Regions from separate parts of the Homo sapiens genome. Here region 2 is linked to region 1. The links come from fine-mapping of genetic effects on gene expression. Tissue or cell type: cerebellar hemisphere. Region 1 holds a variant in brackets; the other region holds the start of a gene. All regions are shown on one strand. Distances are from middle to middle.

Region 1 (8,102 bases):
AGGGGGTGAAAGGGTTTCTCCTTGAGAGAAGCAAGCCTCTGAGTCCAAGGCCCTCCACCAAGCGGCTCTGGTCCAGTGTTCCAGCCTTATTGCCCATCCTGCTCCATGTATGGAGTTGGGGGTTGTCACCACACACAAACACAACGTTCTGCCAACTCACCCTCCTCGATGTCTCTGTTCATCCCCTCCTTCCCATTTCCTCCACTGGACCACCGCCATAGCAGTATTCACTGACTTCCAGTTTCCTGCGGGATAAATCTGAACCCTTTGTCGTGGCACCCAAAGCCCTTGCCCAGCCGCGCTGTCCCAGCTCCTCTTCATCGTGTGGAGCAACTTGCAGTTCTCCAAGCAGCCTCTGCTTTCTCAAGCTTGGAACCTGAGCTGTGTCGTCTTCTCTGCCTGCACCCCTTCTTTTCCATCTCTGCTGGAGAACCCCTGCTTAGCCTCAGTAAAGATGTTTAAGGGACAGTTATGCATGAGGGTTTAGAGTTCACAGACCCAGTCTGTCCTGGAGGTCAAGGGCATGTTGCTGGCAATTGCAGCGTCAACAATTCAATTGAGTAAATACATGAGTGAATAGATGAATTGTTGTGGAATCAGAAACTGAGGCTCGGCCGGGCACGGTGGCTCACGCCTGTAGTCTCAGCACTTTGGGAGGCCGAGGCGGGCGAATCACGAGGTCAGGAGATTGAGACCATCCTGGCTAACACGGTGAAACCCCATCTCTACCAAAAAAAATACAAAAAGTTAGCTGGGCATGGTGGCGGGTGCCTGTAGTTCCAGCTACTCCGGAGGCTGAGGCAGGGGAATGGTGTGAACCCAGCAGGCGGAGCTTGCAGTGAGCCGAGATTGCACCACTGCACTCCAGCCTGGGCGACAGAGTGAGAGTCTGTCTCAAAAAAAAAAAAAAAAAAAAAGAAACTGAGGCTCAATCTGGGCACGGTGGCTCATGCCTATAATTCCAGCACTTTGGGAGGCTGGGGTGGGTGGATCACGTGAGGTCAGGAGTTTGAGACCAGCCTGGCCAACATGGCGAAACCCCGTCTCTACTAAAAATACAAGAATTAGCTGGGCATGGTGGCGGGCGCATGTAATCCCAGCTACTAGGGAGGCTGAGGCAGGAGAATCGCTTGAACTTGGGAGATGGAGGTTGCAGTGAGCCGAGATCACACCATTGCAATCCAGCCTGGGCCAGAGAGTAAGACCCTGTCTAAAAAAAAAAAAAAAAAAGAAAGAAAAAAAGAAACTGAGGCTCAAAGAAAGAGCCCGCAGGTCCACACTGACCTAGTGGCAATGCAGACATAAACATAAACAAAGCCTCTTTTAGGAGCCACTGCTGCCTCTCAGAGGGAGACAGAAATTTCCCGGTTTAATAGGCTTTCTCCCCACCTAATCTGCAGTAGTGAGTCCTAAAATCTGTCCCTGTCCCAATGACTGGTGCCTAGAATGCTTCATAAAAGTGAGAGTCCAGCCCCAGAGGTCAGGGAGTCTGAAGTTTCAAAGACTACACAGGGGATAATGTTGCAGATGAGGCCGGGCCCCTGTGTGAGCTGTGCCCACTGTGTGCAGCTTTGTGAGCTCTCCAGGAAACTGGGAGGATTAGGGTTTTGTATGTGAATCACATACTTCATTAAGGACTGATTCCAGTATAGGGCTCTAGCCATTTCTGATTGGTTTCTGATGGACAGAGGCTGCCTCTGAGACTCAGCAGGGCGTGGGGTGGCTGTGGCAAGAATGTGTGATTTTAGGGAGGCCGCCAGCAGATTCTCTCTCCAGATCTCTTACTTGTCTGTTTCAAGGATTTGACTTGAGATGTATTTTGAGATATATTGTTGCGGGGTGGCTGGGGGCCTGGGGGTGTCAGCAGGCAAAGGAATGTTCCCTTGGATGCTTCCACTGTTGCTGTTAGCAGTCACAGCAGCTCTCACAGCGGGCGCTGTTCTAAACCCTTAGCAGCCGTCCTCCCATAGCCCTGCAGGATGGTGGAGAGACAGGTGCCATTCTCTTTTTTTTTAAGATGAAGTAGGTCGGGAGCTGTGGCTCATGCCTGTAATCCCAGCCCTTTGGGAAGTTAAGGCAGGCAGATGGCTTGAGCCCAGGAGTTTGAGACTAGCCTGGGCAACACAGGGAGACCCTGTCCCTAGCTAAATAAATAAATAAGCTGGGTGTGGTGGTGCATGCCTGTAGTCCCAGCTAAGTGGGAGGCTGAGACGGGAGGATCACTTGAGCCCAGGAGGTCGAGGCGAGCCGTGATCACATCACTGCACTCAGAGCAAGACCCTGTCTCAGAAAAAATGTAAAAAAAGATGAAGAAGCTGAACTTCATGGAGGTCTGCTTAGGGATCCACATCTCAGATGCTCTTGGTCAATGTCAATAGGTTTAGTGGGACCCTGGAGGAAGACATTAGAACATGGTGGGGGCTGGGTTTAGCTGGACAGTGCCTGCCTCATCCGCTGGGGGTCACTGTGACTCAGCTCCCACTGATTCTGGACACAGGACACTGTGGCCCAGTGTGACCTTAGCTGACAATTTTTCAAAAGTAACTGGACGTATAACCTTGTGTAGAAATGCCATCATCCGGCAGGGCGCGGTGGCTCACACCTGTAATCCTAGCACTTTGGGAGGCTGAGGCGGGTGGATCACGAGGTCAGGAGTTCGAGATCTGCCTGGCCAACATGAGGAAACCCTTTCTCTACTAGAAATACAAAAATTAGCGTGGTGGTGCATGCTTGTAATCCCAGCTACTTGGGAAGCTAAGGCACAAGAATCGCTTGAACCCAGGAGGTGAAGGTTGTAGTGAGCCAAGATCATGCCACTGCACTCCAGCCTGGGCGACACAGTGAGACTCCATCTAAAAAATATACATATATGTGTATATATATGTGTGTGTGTATATATATGTATATACATGTATATATATACGTATATATGTGTACATATATACGCATATATATGTATATATTATATATATACATATATACACATATATACACATATACACATATATACGTATATATACACACACATATATATGTGTATGTGTGTATATGTATATATGAAAGAAATGTCATAATCCATAAATGTTGGCAAACAATTTTTTCAAATGAGCCAAACACTGTGTAGGACTGGGTGAGGTGGTGTGCAATTTTAGTCTCAGCTGCTAGGGAGGTTGAAGCGGGAGGATCACTTGAGGCCAGTAGTTTGAGGCTACACTGAGCTGCAATCACGCAGGTGAATAGTGACTGCACTCCAGCCTGGGCGACACAGTGAGACCTCATCTCAAAAACAAAAACAGAACAAAGCACTGTACAGGGCAAGCAAGTAGGTTCAAGAGTCAACTTTAGTCCACAAGGTGCTGGTTTGAAACAGTATTAGTCTGTTTTCACATTGCTATAAGGAAATACCTGAGACTTGGTAATTTATAAAGGAAAGAGGTTTAATTGACTCAGTTCCGCATGGTGGGGAGGCCTCAGGAAACTTACAATCATGGCGGAAGGCACCTCTTCACAGGGCAGCAGGAGAGAGAATGAGTGCCAGCAGGGGAAATGCCAGATGCTTATAAAACCATCAGATCTCGTGAGTACTCACTATCACTAGAACAGCATGGGGGAAACCGCCCCCACGATTCGATTACCTCCCACCAGGTCCCTCCAATGACACATGGGGATTATGGGGATTACAATTCAGGATGAGATTTGGGGCTGGGCGAAGTGGCTTACGCCTGTAATCCCAGCACTTTGGGAGGCCGAACTCCAGAGGTCAGGAGTTTGCGAGCAGCCTGGCCAACACAGTGAAACCCTGTCTCTACTAAAAGTACAAAATTAGCCAGGTGTGGTGGCGCACACCTGCAATCCCAGCTACTCGGGAGACTGAGGCATGAGAATTGCTTGAACCCAGGGGGCAGAGGTTGCAGTGAGCTGAGATCATGCCACTGCACTCCAGCCTGGGCAACAGAGCGAGACTCTGTCTCAAAAAAAAAAAAAAAAAAAAAGATCTCGTATTCATTCTGCAGGCACTGGCGTGCCCACCGTAGGAGTCAGGGTGGAGGAGACAGACCCGATGCAGGGTCTCAGGGCGCTCACAGTCAATGTCAACAGTGTGGCCCATGTTCTGAGGGGCACCCTTCCTCGGGGTATGACACAACACTTCCCATAGGAGGAGGAGGAAGTCTGTTGGATGTTGTGTTTGGTTTCTGGGGCTGCTGTGATCAAGTGCCGCAACCCGGTGGCTTACAGCAACCCAGCTGTATTCTCTCACAGTTCTTGAGGCTGGAAGTCTAAAATCAAGCTGTCAGCAGGGCCCGTGCTCCCTCTGAAGGCTTCAAGGGAGGATCTTTGCCCCGCTCCTAGTTTCCGGTGTTGCCAGCAATCCTCAGTGCTTCTTGGCCTATAGATGCATCACTGCAATCTCTGCCTCC[G/A]TGGTCATGTGGCATTTTTCCCGTGTGTCTGTCTTTCCCCCTCCAAAGTTCACCAGTCATACAGGATTAAAGGCCCACCCTACTCCCATATGGGCCTTTAATCCTCATACTCCAGTTTGACCTCATCTTAACTTGATTCCACCTGAAAAGACTATTTCCAAGTATGGCCACATTCAGAGGCACCAGGAGTTAGGATTTGAACGTAACTTTTTTTTTGTTTTTGAGACGGAGTCTCACTCTGTCGCCCAGGCTGGAGTGCAGTGGCATGATCTTGGCTCACTGCAAGCTCCACCTCCCGGGTTCACGCCATTCTCCTGCCTCAGCCTCCTGAGTAGCTGGGACTACAGGTGCCCACCACCACGCCTGGCTAATTTTTTGTATTTTTAGTAGAGACGGGGTTTCACTGTTAGCCAGGATGGTCTCGATCTCCTGACCTCGTGATCCGCCCACCTCGGCCTCCCAAAATGCTGGGATTACAGGAGTAAGCCACCATGCCCGGCTGTGAACATGTCTTTTGCGGGGGCACACAATTCAACTCCCAATGTGTACAGTAGTTAGGTGACATTTGGGAAGACTGTTCCAGGTAGAGAAAACAGCAGGTGAAAAGGCCCAAAGGCAGGAGGGCACTGGTGAGTTCTAGGAAGTAAAAGAAATTCAGCACAGCTGGAGTGGAGAGTGGCAAGGAGGTGCAGCTGAGGCGACTCATGCTGGACCTTATAGGCCAGGTGGGAGGGTGAGAGTAGGCCAGGCTACAGTTTGAGAGAAAAAAAAAATCCCAAATCTCAGTGCCAGGCCCAGTACAGGTTCATTTTCAGCTTGTGTCAAATCTGATGTGGGCCGAACAGCTCTTCTCCATGAGGTAGCTCAGCCGTGTAGAACACATGGTCGCGGGGTGAAGGGAAGTCTGGACAAGGCCCCCAGTCTCCATGGCCCCAGCCTGAAAGGAACTCTTCCACTCACAGACCACACAGCAGGGGAGGCTGGCAAGGTGGGGGCACAGATTTCTGGGAGCCCCAACTGTCTGTCCCACTCGTATTCACCCGAAGTCAAGGCTAAGACTTCATCCTGACAGCACTGGGAAGTCAGCCAGGGTTTTCACACAGAGGTAGTGACAAGATGGGACTTGCATTTTCAGTTTTTCCTTTTTTCACTGTAGCTCTCAGATCTTATGACTTGTGTTTTAGAAAGATTCATCTGGCTAGAGGACTCCTCTGAAGCAGGGGAGCTGGAGTTTGGTGGAGCGGGGAAAGTGGCTGCAGCGGGAGTTGGCCACAGCAGAGGCACGATATATTTGTAGTTAACTCATGCAACTTCCACCTTGCAGGCTCAGCCAAAAAACCGAAAAAAAGAATGTGAGAAAAATCAATTCATGTAATTAAAAAACAATCCAAAAGCATTTTGTGTATGTCCTTTCCTAGATTGGAGATTGTCCACATTTTATGCATATATTCTGAATAGCCCAAACCCAGGGAGTGTATACTCTATGGGCCTTTTAAGAGATTTTCAGGGGTAACTGAGCTCCTGGCTGACTTGAGAACCTCACTGTCATGGAATTGCCCTCTACTCAGGGTCTGTAACTGAACCTAATAACAAAAGTAGGGAGGCTTGTGTCAAAAGGACTTCCTGCTGTTTCCCAAACAGTGTGGTGCCTTGCCTCTGGCAGAAACACCCTTGGATACAATATGAAGGCTTTATTTATTTATTTATGTAATTTCATTTTTTTGAGACAGAGTCTGGCTCTGTCCCCCAGGCTGGAGTGCAGTGGCACGATCTCGGCTCACTGCAAGCTCTGCCTCCCGGGTTCACACCATTCTCCTGCCTCAGCCTCCCGAGTAGCTGGGACTACAGGCGCCCCCCCACCACGCCCGGCTAATTTTTGTATTTTTAGTAAAGACAGGGTTTCACCGTGTTAGCCAGGATGGTCTCGATCCGCCTGCCTCGGCCTCCCAAAGTGCTGGGATTACAGGCGTGAGCCACCGCACCCGGCCCGGCATTTTTTATTTTTTGCTGAGACTGACCCCTACCTGCCTGCAGTTCTTTCTAGTTTATGAAGTGTTTTCTAAGCCATTACCTTATTTGAGCTTCAGGATTCTTTATTTATTTATTTATTTATTTTGAGACAGAGTCTCGCTGTGTCACTTAGCCTGGAGTGTAGTGGTGCGATCTCGGCTCGATGCAACCTCCATCTCCCAGGTTCGAGTGATTCTTGTGCCTCAGCCTCCCGAGCAGGGGGGACTACAGGCCTGGGCCACCATGCCCAGACTTTTTTTTGTATTTTTAGTAGAGATGGGGGTTCCACCATGTTGCTCAGGCTGGTCTCAAACTCCTGGCCTCATGGGATTCTCCTGCCTTGGCTTACCAAAGTGGTGGGATTACGGGCGTGAGCCACCACGCCCAGCTGAGCCTCAGAATAAATTAGATCTTTGATAGGAGATCTAATTTACATCAAGGAACTCAGAAGCTCAGACACACCTTGTCCCACAGTAGCCAGGAGCCCTGGAAACAATCCCCAATGTGGAGTTGGACGTGTTGGTTTCATGGCCACAGTTTTAGCTGTGGTTTCAGTATTCTTGTGTATAAAATATGGGTAACTGCACAAAGCTATTTTGAAGCTCCAGTAAAGCAAGGTTGGTGAAAGCATTTTGCAAACTGCTAAGCGCTGTCCAAATGTTGTATCCTCAGACTTTACACGTCACTGAAAGTGTTTCTGAGTCGTGCTAAAGAAATCCACGTGGAAGATTAAGGGAATTTATGCCTGCAGTAATGTCTTTGGGCTGCACCTACACTATTTGACTTTGAACTTAATTTCCTGAATTACCTTCACTGCTTGGGGAGCTGTGCCCATCATCTCCTGCAGGCCACAGCCCTGGCCCTCATTTCTGTGGGTTGGCAAGGGCTGGGGTGGAGGTGGGGTGAGCAGTTTGTTAGAGACCGCCCTGAAAGCCTTGCTGCCAGATCTCAGTGACATGAGTAAGGTCGTGTGGAAATATGTGACTTCCTGTTATGGAATTAGCCTGGGACAGTGAAGAGTGGCCTTGGGGTGAACCAGAGGGCACTTGCCCACCTGGGTATGGGTATCCCAGCTGCACTTGATTGTTACTTTGGGGGAAGGCAGTACAGTGTGAGCTAAATCTTCGGACTTTCCTAGAGAAGCCTGAAATCCACGTATCTTCATTTTTCATTCTCAGGGCAACTCCAGTGCCTGGGTGGAGTTAGTGCCTGAGTTGGTTGTGTAGCTTTGGGCCGCTGCTCTTGACTTCAGTTTTCTCATTTAAAATTGGTGATCCACCTGAGATCAGGAGTTCAAGACCAGCCTGGTCAACATGGTAAAACCCCATCTCTACTAAAAATACAAAAATTAGCCCGGCATGGTGGAACACACCTGCAATCCCAGCTACTCAGGAGGCTGAGGCAGGAGAATCGCTAGAACCTGGGAGGTGGAGGTTGCTGTGAGCTGAGATGGCTCCACTGTACTCCAGCCTGGGCGACAGAGCGAGACCCCCGTCTCAAAGAAAAAAAAAACCTGGTGATCTAGCTGGGCAACATAGGGAGACCCTGTGTTTACAAAAAATTCGCTTGGCGTGGTGGCCACGTTTCTGGTTCCAGCTACTTGGGAGGCTGAGGCAGGAGGCTCATTTGAGCCCGGGAGGTTGAAGCTGCAGTAAGCCGTGATCGTGCCACTGG
Region 2 (8,089 bases), 68 kb before region 1:
AGTAGCTGAGACTACAGGCGCCTGCCACGACGCCTGGCTAATTTTTTGTATTTTTAGTACAGACAGGATTTCACCATGTTAGCCAGGATGGTCTCGATCTCCTAACCTCGTGATCCACCCGCCTCAGCCTCCCAAAGTGCTCGGATTATGGGCGTGGGCCACGGCGCTTGGCCCACCCCTGCATTTATTGAGTTAAATTTTAAAAATCCTATCCTAGGAAATTGGTGGTGGGGCTCAGAAAATGATACCCCAAAGTATGAAGCTGTGGGAGGCTGAATGCTTTGAACTAAAGTATCTGACCATCGCTCACTCCTTTTCCCTCCCAAAACCCTCCTGAAGCGCAGGGAGGGGCCTTCTCTGATGTTCTCTTTTGTTTCTAAGGGAAGTTCCTGCAGAAGGAATGCCATTGTCTTGAGCCCTTTCCCTAGCATCTCATAAAACATGGACAATTAACTCACAGGAAAGGATACTGAAGGTGATACCATCTCTTCTGAGGACTGGGCTGCTTGAGAGGTTTTATCTGCATGACAAGACAGCCTTTGTTTGCCATGCATTTCCTCCCCTCAACCTCCTAGCGTCTGCTGCCACCTCCTCCCAGAAACCTCAGGCCCCAGTTTTTGGAGCTCAAATGCTATTTAGACTTCATCAGTCTGGCCCTTACTAGAGTCTCACATTTTGTGGGACTCCTGTGCATGTATGTAATAAATTTGCATGCCTTTTCTCCTATTAATCTGTCTACTGTCAATTTTATTCCAGAGACTCAAATTATTGAAGCTTCGGAGAATACAGGGAATGTTTAAAACTTCTACGCTGGCAAAAAGTTAATTCAATTATTACTGAATTAATGGGAGAATTGATTGCTTTGAAGGAATCCTCCCCATCCCTAACAAAAATCAAAAACAATCCCTATGGGGAAAGATGGACAAAGTCAACTATTTAATACAACTTGGTGCACACTTGAAAATAATACCAAGATGCAAGGATGGCCACATACTGGGGGAGAACCTCAACTTTGCTCACATCCTTCTTGGCTGTGAGGCAGGCCAAGGCTCCCGGAGAGGAAGTGGGGAAGCCTGGGGCATTTGCCAAAGCCTGTGAGGTCAGGTTGGCTGGAAGGTGGCTTGGGCCCCTTGGCACCAAGGCAAGGTTCAATCAACTCTCCACCCCTATGGCTTCCGTTTGGGCCAGGGCCACCCAGGCTCCTCATGCTTGGGCAGGCATCTCTGGGATCCGCCCTCCTGACGCCCCTGCAGGCACACAGTCCTGCTGTGGGCCTTCTCCCCTGCTATATATCATAAGGTTTTTGAGCCGCAGTTTCCTTATGTATACGTGGAGGACACTGGCTTCTTGAGTATCTCTGAGTACCTCCTGTGTGCAAAGCATATGGTGTTGGCGATAAGGCAGTGATGAAGACAAAACATGGGCCTGGTGGAATTTTTTTTTTTGTTGTTCGTTTTTGTTTTGTTTTGAGACAGGGTCTCACTCTGTTGCCCAGGCTGGAGTGTAGTGGTGCAATCTTGGCTCACCGCAACCTCCGCCTCCCGGGCTCAAGCGATTCTCCTGCCTCGGCCTCCGAAGTAGCTGGGATTACAGGTGTCTGCCACTATGCCTGGCTAATTTTTTTTTTTTTTTGTATTTTCAGTAGAGACAGGGTTTCACCATGTTGGCCAGGCTGGTCTTGAATTCCTGACCTCAAATGATCCACCCGCCTTGGCCTCCCAAAGTACTGGGATTACAGGTATGAGCCACCACGCCTGGCCCATGTTTGTTTGTTTTTGAGACAGGGTCTCTCACACTCTGTTATCTAGGCTGGAGTAGTGGCGCGATCACTGCTCACTGCAGCCTCGACCTCCTAGGCAGCCTCCCATCTCAGCCTCCCAAGTAGCTGAGACTACAGATGTGCACCACCACACCCGGCTAATTTTTGTATTATTTGTACAGACAGGGTCTCCCTATGTTGTCCAGACTGGTCTAGAACTCCTAGGCACAAGCATTCCTCCCTCCTCAGCCTCCTAAAGTGCTGGGATTACAGGCGTGAGCCACCATGTCTGGCCCCAAAGAGGGTGATGGGAGTGGGGGCCAGAAGACAGAATGAACAAATAAACACGCAAGATAACTTCCAAGTGCTATAAAGAAAACAGGTCGGCTGGGTGCGGTGGCTCACGCCTGTAGTCCCAGCACTTCGGGAGGCCGAAGCAGGCGGATCGCGAGGTTAGGAGTTCAAGACCAGCCTGGCCAGCATGGTGAAACCCCGTCTCTACTAACAATACAAAAAATTAGCCAGGCATGGTGGTGTGCACCTGTAGTCCCAGCTACTCAGGAGGCTGAAGCAGGAGAATTGCTTGAACCTGGCAGGCGGAGGTTGCAGTGAGCCAAGATTATGCCATTGTACTCCAGCCTGGGCGACAGAGCAAGACTCCGTCTCAAAAAAAAAAAAAAAAAAGAAAACAGGGCAAGGAATGGTGGCTCATTCCTGTAATCCCAATACTTCCAAAGGCTGAGAGGGGAGGATCTCTTGAGGCCAAGAGTTCGCAACCAGCTTGGGCAACATAGGGAGACCACCTCTCTATTTTGAAAAAAAAAAAAAAAGTAAGTTGTGCAAAGGGGAGGGAGGGGAAGGCATGGAGGATTCAAGGGGAGGATGGCCTGGAATGAGGCCCAACCAAAAAGGGAGCAGAAGTGGGCAACACAGAGACCTGGCTTTTTCTCCAGGGCTGTTCCTAGTCCCAGCTGAGGCCTGAGGAGGAGTGGGGACTTCTCTACTCTTTCCCTCCAGAGCAGAGGGTCCGGGATAGAAAATTCAATCTGGGGCTGGGTGTGGTGGTTCATGCCTGTAATCCCAGCAATTTGGGAGGCTGTGGTGGGTGGATCACCTGAGGTCAGGAGTTTGAGACCAGCCTGGCCAACATGGCAAAATCCCCTCTCTACTAAAAATACAAAAATTAGCCGGGCATGGTGGAGCATGTCTGTAATCTGTTACTCATGGAGCTGAGGCAGGACAATCGCTCGAAGCTTGGAGGTGGAGGTTGCAGTGAACCGAGATCACACCACTGCACTCCAGCCTGGGCAACAGAGCAAGACTTCATCTCAAAAAAAGAAAAAGAAAATTCAGTCTGGACCTGGGTTTGGGGTCAGTGCCTGTTCCCTCCTCCTTCCTAACCCTCACCCTTCCTCCTTAGGGCAGATGGGCAGCTCCCATCTTCTCCCCTTCCCCCGTTCCCCAGGACAGCGACCAACACAGGGCGGCAGGGTAGGGCTGGACCCCCTCCTCCGCAGAACTGAATTCTGTTGAATACCCAGTGGGCAGATTAAGTTCGGGCTAAGGGGACCAGAAAGGCTGGGACAGGAAAGGAGTTTTCTTTTCTTTTCTTTTTTTTTTTTTTGAGACGGAGTCTCGCTCTGTCGCCTAGGCTGGAGTGCAATGGCGCGATCTCGGCTCACTGCAACCTCCGCCTCTCGGGTTCAAACGATTCTCCTGCCTCAGTCTCCCGAGTAGCTAGGATCATGGGACTACAGGCGCCTGCCACCATTCCCGGCTAATTTTTGTATTTTTAGTACAGACGGGGTTTCACCATATTGGACAGGCTGGTCTCGAACTCCTGACCTTATGTTCCGCCCGCCTCAGCCTCCCAAAGTGCTGGGATTACAGGCGTGAGCCGCCCGGCCCGGAGTTTTCTATTCTTTTTTTTTGAGACGGAGTCTCGCTCTGTCGCCCAGGCTGGAGTGCAGTGGCGCCGTCTCGGCTCACTCCGAGCTCCGCCTCCCGGGTTCACGACATTCTCCTGCCTCAGCCTCCCGAGTGGCTGGGACTACAGGCGCCCCCCACCTCGCCCGGCCAATTTTTTGTATTTTTAGTAGAGACGGGGTTTCACCGTGTTAGCCAGGATGGTCTCGATCTCCTGACCTCCTGATCCGCCCGCCTCGGCCTCCCAAAGTGCTGGGATTACAGGCGTGAGCCGCCGCGCCCGGCCTGGAGTTTTCTTTTTTTTTTTAAGCATCACTTCATATTTCAAGAGCTCTCAGTTCTCCTGAGATTTCTAGGCTCTGTCCAGGATCCCTAAGCCTGTTCACAGTCCTACTTGAAGTTTCTAATCTTTCTTTTCTCATTAACCAAAACTGGAGAGAGGAAAAAGCCCATCATTTTCCCTGGACAGCAGCGCCTACTGGGAGTTTCACCCGCATTAACATGCAAACGACAGGCAAACTCCTAGTCATCCTTCCAAAGACCCTGCTCCACAGCCCTGCCGAGGCCGGTGCGCACCTAGCCCAGCCACTGCCCCTCACGGCCCCCGCGCCGCCCTCACTGAGCAGGGCGGGCAGCGCTGTAAGCGTAACCACTTGGGGCTTGGGGCTTCTGACCCGGGAGTCGGGTGCTGGGTTGAGTGCGAGGCCGACGCCTCTGCCGGGTGGGGAACCCGCCCGCCGGCGAGGAGCGGTCGCGGCCAGGGGCTTCCGCCGACTGGGAGGCCCGGGGCCGGGCCGGAGGGACTCGGAACCTGGAAACGACCAGGCGCGACCCCCAGAGGACTACAGGCGCGGCTTTTCTGGCCGCCGCCCGGTTCCCGCGGGCGACTCCACTCGGCATGCGCGGCGGGGAGCCTCGGCGGTGAGGCGCAAAGCCGCGGGCTCGTGGGACGGCCACCCCTCCGCAAAACCGCCAATGGGCGGGCCCGGGCCGCCGATCGCCCGCCGCGGCTTCCGGTTCCGATGACAGTGGCGCCGGAAGCCGGGGCCGGGGCTGCGGGGCGAGGTGAGAGCGGGCGGGCTTGGGAGCCGGCAGGTGCGGGCCGAGGGCGGGCACAGCGGCCGGCGGAGCTGAGGCGCGCGGCGGGGAAAGCTCGGCCGGCCTCCCGGGCCCCAGCCTTCTCCAGAACCCCTGCTACCCACGACTAAGCCCCGAACAATCTGCCCTTGGGCTTGTTCTCTTCGCAGTTGTCGGCCCTGGGCCGGGAGCTGGAGTCCCAGACTCATAGGTCCCGGCCCAGCCCCCGAAGAGCCGCCTCAGCCGGGGGGAGTTGCTCGGACTCAAACGTCCAGTCCTCGTGCGACCGCGCTGGGTCGGAAGTGAGCAGGTGCGCACCGGGCTCGGCAGGGCTATGGAGCAGGGTCTTTGGAAGGATGACTAGGAGTTTGCCTGTCGTTTGCATGTTAATGCGGGTGAAACTCCCAGTAGGCGCTGCTGTCCAGGGAAAATGATGGGCTTTTTCCTCCCTCCAGTTTTGGTTAATGAGAAAAGAAAGATTAGAAACTTCAAGTAGGACTGTATAGTAAAAAAAAAAAAAAAATGGAGGAGGGCGATATGACACGGTAACTGGTGTGAGGGTGGGGCGGAGGGGTCAGTATTAGATACTGTGGTCTAGCAGAGCATCTCTGAGGACGGGACATTTGCGTTGAGACCCAAATTAGGAGGCAGGCTTAGGAAGATACGGGAAGAGAGTGGTCCAGGCAGCGGGAACAGCCAGTGTGAAGGCCCTAGGGCAGAAATCAACTGAGAGTATAGTCAAGGAACAGAAAGCAAGCTAGTGTGGCTAAAGTATGGTAAGAAAGGGAAAGAGTGGTAGGAGATGAGGTCGGATAATTGGGGTTTGGTCACATAGAGTCTGTAGGTCAGAGAGAGGAATGTGGAGTTTTTTCTAAGTACAGTGGAAATCTTTTGGTTTTAAGCAGAGGAGTGACATGTAGGGTAGAGAGTGGATGGAGGTCGCGGCTGCAAAAGCATAAGAATTGGCTGGGCACGGTGGTTCACGCCCGTAATTCCAGCACTTTGGGAGGCTGAGACTGGCAGACGGCTTGAGCTCAGCACTTCAAGACCAACCTGGCCAACATGGTGAAACCCTGTCGCTCCAAAAAATTAGGCTGGGCGCAGTGGCTCACGCTTGTAACCCCAGCACTTTGGGAGGCCAAGGCGGGAGGATCACTTGAGGCCAGGAGTTCAAGACCAGCCTGGCCAACATGGTGAAACCCCGTCTCTACTAAAAATACAAAATTTAGCCGGGTGTGGTGGCAGGTGTCTGTAATTCCAGCTACTTGGGAGGCTGAGGCAGGAGAATCGCTTGAAACTGGGAAGCAAAGGTTGCAATGAGCCAAGATCGTGCCACTGTACTCCAGCCTGGGCGACAGAGTAAGACTCTGTCTCAAAAACAAACAACAAAAAAATTAGCCAGGTGTGGTGGGGAGAGAGGGGAAGAATAGGGACAAAAGGGAATACATAAATAAACACAAAGGAGAAAAGGCCCTGCATGGACCACTTACATGTGTCATGAACTCAGGAGTGTTCATGGTGGGACTACATGGTGCACCTGTAGTCCCAGCTTCTTGGGGTGGGGGGCTGAGGTGGGAGGATCACTTGAGCCCAGGAGGTCGAGGCTGCAGTGAGCCCTGATTGTACCACAGCACTCTGGCCTGGGAAACAGATTGAGACCCTGTCTCTCTCTTTTTTTTTTTTTTTTTAAGCAACCCTATTAACTGAAGAGACCCTGCCTCACAAAAAAAAAAAAAAAAAAAAAAAAGCGTTAAGAATTGGGTCAATGGAGGTTGTCTAATCTTTTTTTTTTGTTTTTGTTTGTTTGTTTGTTTTTTTGAGACAGTCTCACTCTGTCGCCCAGGCTGGAGTGCAGTGGCGCCATCTCAGCTCACTGCAACCTCTGCCTCCTGGGTTCAAGCAATTCTCCTGCCTCAGCCTCCCGAGTAGCTGGGATTACAGGCACGCACCACCACGCCCAGCTAATTTTTGTATTTTTAGTAGAGACAGGGTTTCGCCATGTTGGTCAGGCTGGTCTCAAACTCCTGACCTTGTGATCCGCCTGCCTCGGCCTCCCAAAGTGCTGGGATTACAGGCATGAGCCACCACGCCCAGCCGATGTTGTCTAATCTTTGTCAGGCAAAAGGGACCTTTATGATTTGCTCAAACTTCCTTTCTCCTTACACAGGAGCCCCTTGTTTCAGGATGCTAAATACTCCAGGATAAACCTCCATACATGCCTTTGTGGAGATTTTAATATTTCACTCATGTCTCTTTTCTACCCACTCCTACACATTTGAGCTCAGGTTCTCCAGCGCAGTTAGGAAATGGATGTGTCATTTAATCAGCAAATGTGTGTGTGTGTTTTTTTAAATTTGAGACGGAGTTTTTGCTCTTGTTGCCCAGGATGGAGTGCAATGGCGTGGTCTTGGCTCACTGCAACCTCCACCTCCTAGGTTCAAGCGATTGTCCTGCCTCAGCCTCCTGAGTAGCTGGGATTACAGGTGCCCGCCACCACGCCTCGGTAATTTTTGTATTTTTAGTAGAGACGAAGTTTCACCATGTTGGTCAGGCGGGTCTCAAACTCTTGACCTCAGGTGAGCCACCCACCTCAGCCTCCCAAAGTGCTGGGATTACAGGTGTGAGCCACTGCGCCGGCCAATCAACAATTTTTTTTTTTTTTGGAGACGGAGTCTCACGCTGTCTCCCAGGCTGGAGTGCAGTGGCACAATCTTGGCTCACTGCAAGCTCCACCTCCCGGGTTCACACCATTCTCCTGCCCCAGCCTCCCGAGTAGCTGGGACTACGGGTGCCCGCCACCACACCCGGCTAATTTTTTGTATTTTTTTAGTAGAGATGGGGTTTCACCGTGTTAGCCAGGATGGTCTTGATCTCCTGACCTCATGATCCACTCGCCTCGGCCTCCCAAAGTGTTGGGATTACAGGCGTGAGCCACCGCGCCCTGCCCCAATCAACAAATGTTTACTGAGCATCTACCATGGACCAGGCCCTAGTCTGGGCACTGAGGGGGAGAAAGGACAAGACTACATTCCAGCCATCGAGCAGCTCACAGACCAATGGAGGAGGCTGACGTGGACAGGCTGTTACTGTGCTGCAGTAGCTGAGGACTCGATGGGTGTGGTGTGGCCACTCTTGCCAGGTTATGAAGCAGAAAAGGAGGCAGGGAGATTTCACTGAGGGCTCAAGGGGAGGTGATAATTTAACTACAGCTTACGTACTCTATACAAAGAAGTGCAGAGGGCACTCTAAAAATGGGAACAACTTGTGCAAAGGAAGCAAATACATTATTGCAAAGGGTTTATATGTCAACCATGGTAGTGTTGGGCA

Direction of the effects. Positions count from the first base shown, and alleles are read on the strand shown. Sizes are in standard deviations (SD) of each study's normalised expression.
In carriers of allele G in region 1, the expression in cerebellar hemisphere of the gene that starts at base 4,710 in region 2 tends to be lower than with A alone (large effect, 1.0 SD a copy in GTEx).

The links. PIP is the estimated chance that this variant, and not a neighbour inherited with it, causes the effect.
Region 2: it holds the start of RMND5B, and the variant in region 1 is fine-mapped to the expression of RMND5B in cerebellar hemisphere (GTEx, PIP above 0.99).

The regions. Positions count from the first base shown.
Region 1 is chr5:178,194,709-178,202,810 of GRCh38, forward strand. No RefSeq gene overlaps it. Among named protein-coding and RNA genes, the nearest start is that of HNRNPAB, 5.8 kb to the right of the region's middle. The variant G/A (reference allele first, on the strand shown) is at 4,419.
Region 2 is chr5:178,126,305-178,134,393 of GRCh38, forward strand. It overlaps RMND5B (required for meiotic nuclear division 5 homolog B), which reads left to right and starts at 4,710. Exons shown (of 11, transcript NM_022762.5): 1 at 4,710-4,750; 2 at 4,933-5,072. It also overlaps a transcript of N4BP3 not described here. RefSeq lists enhancers at 235-895, 1,558-2,218, 3,232-3,883, 3,884-4,535, 5,814-6,343 and a silencer at 4,267-4,856.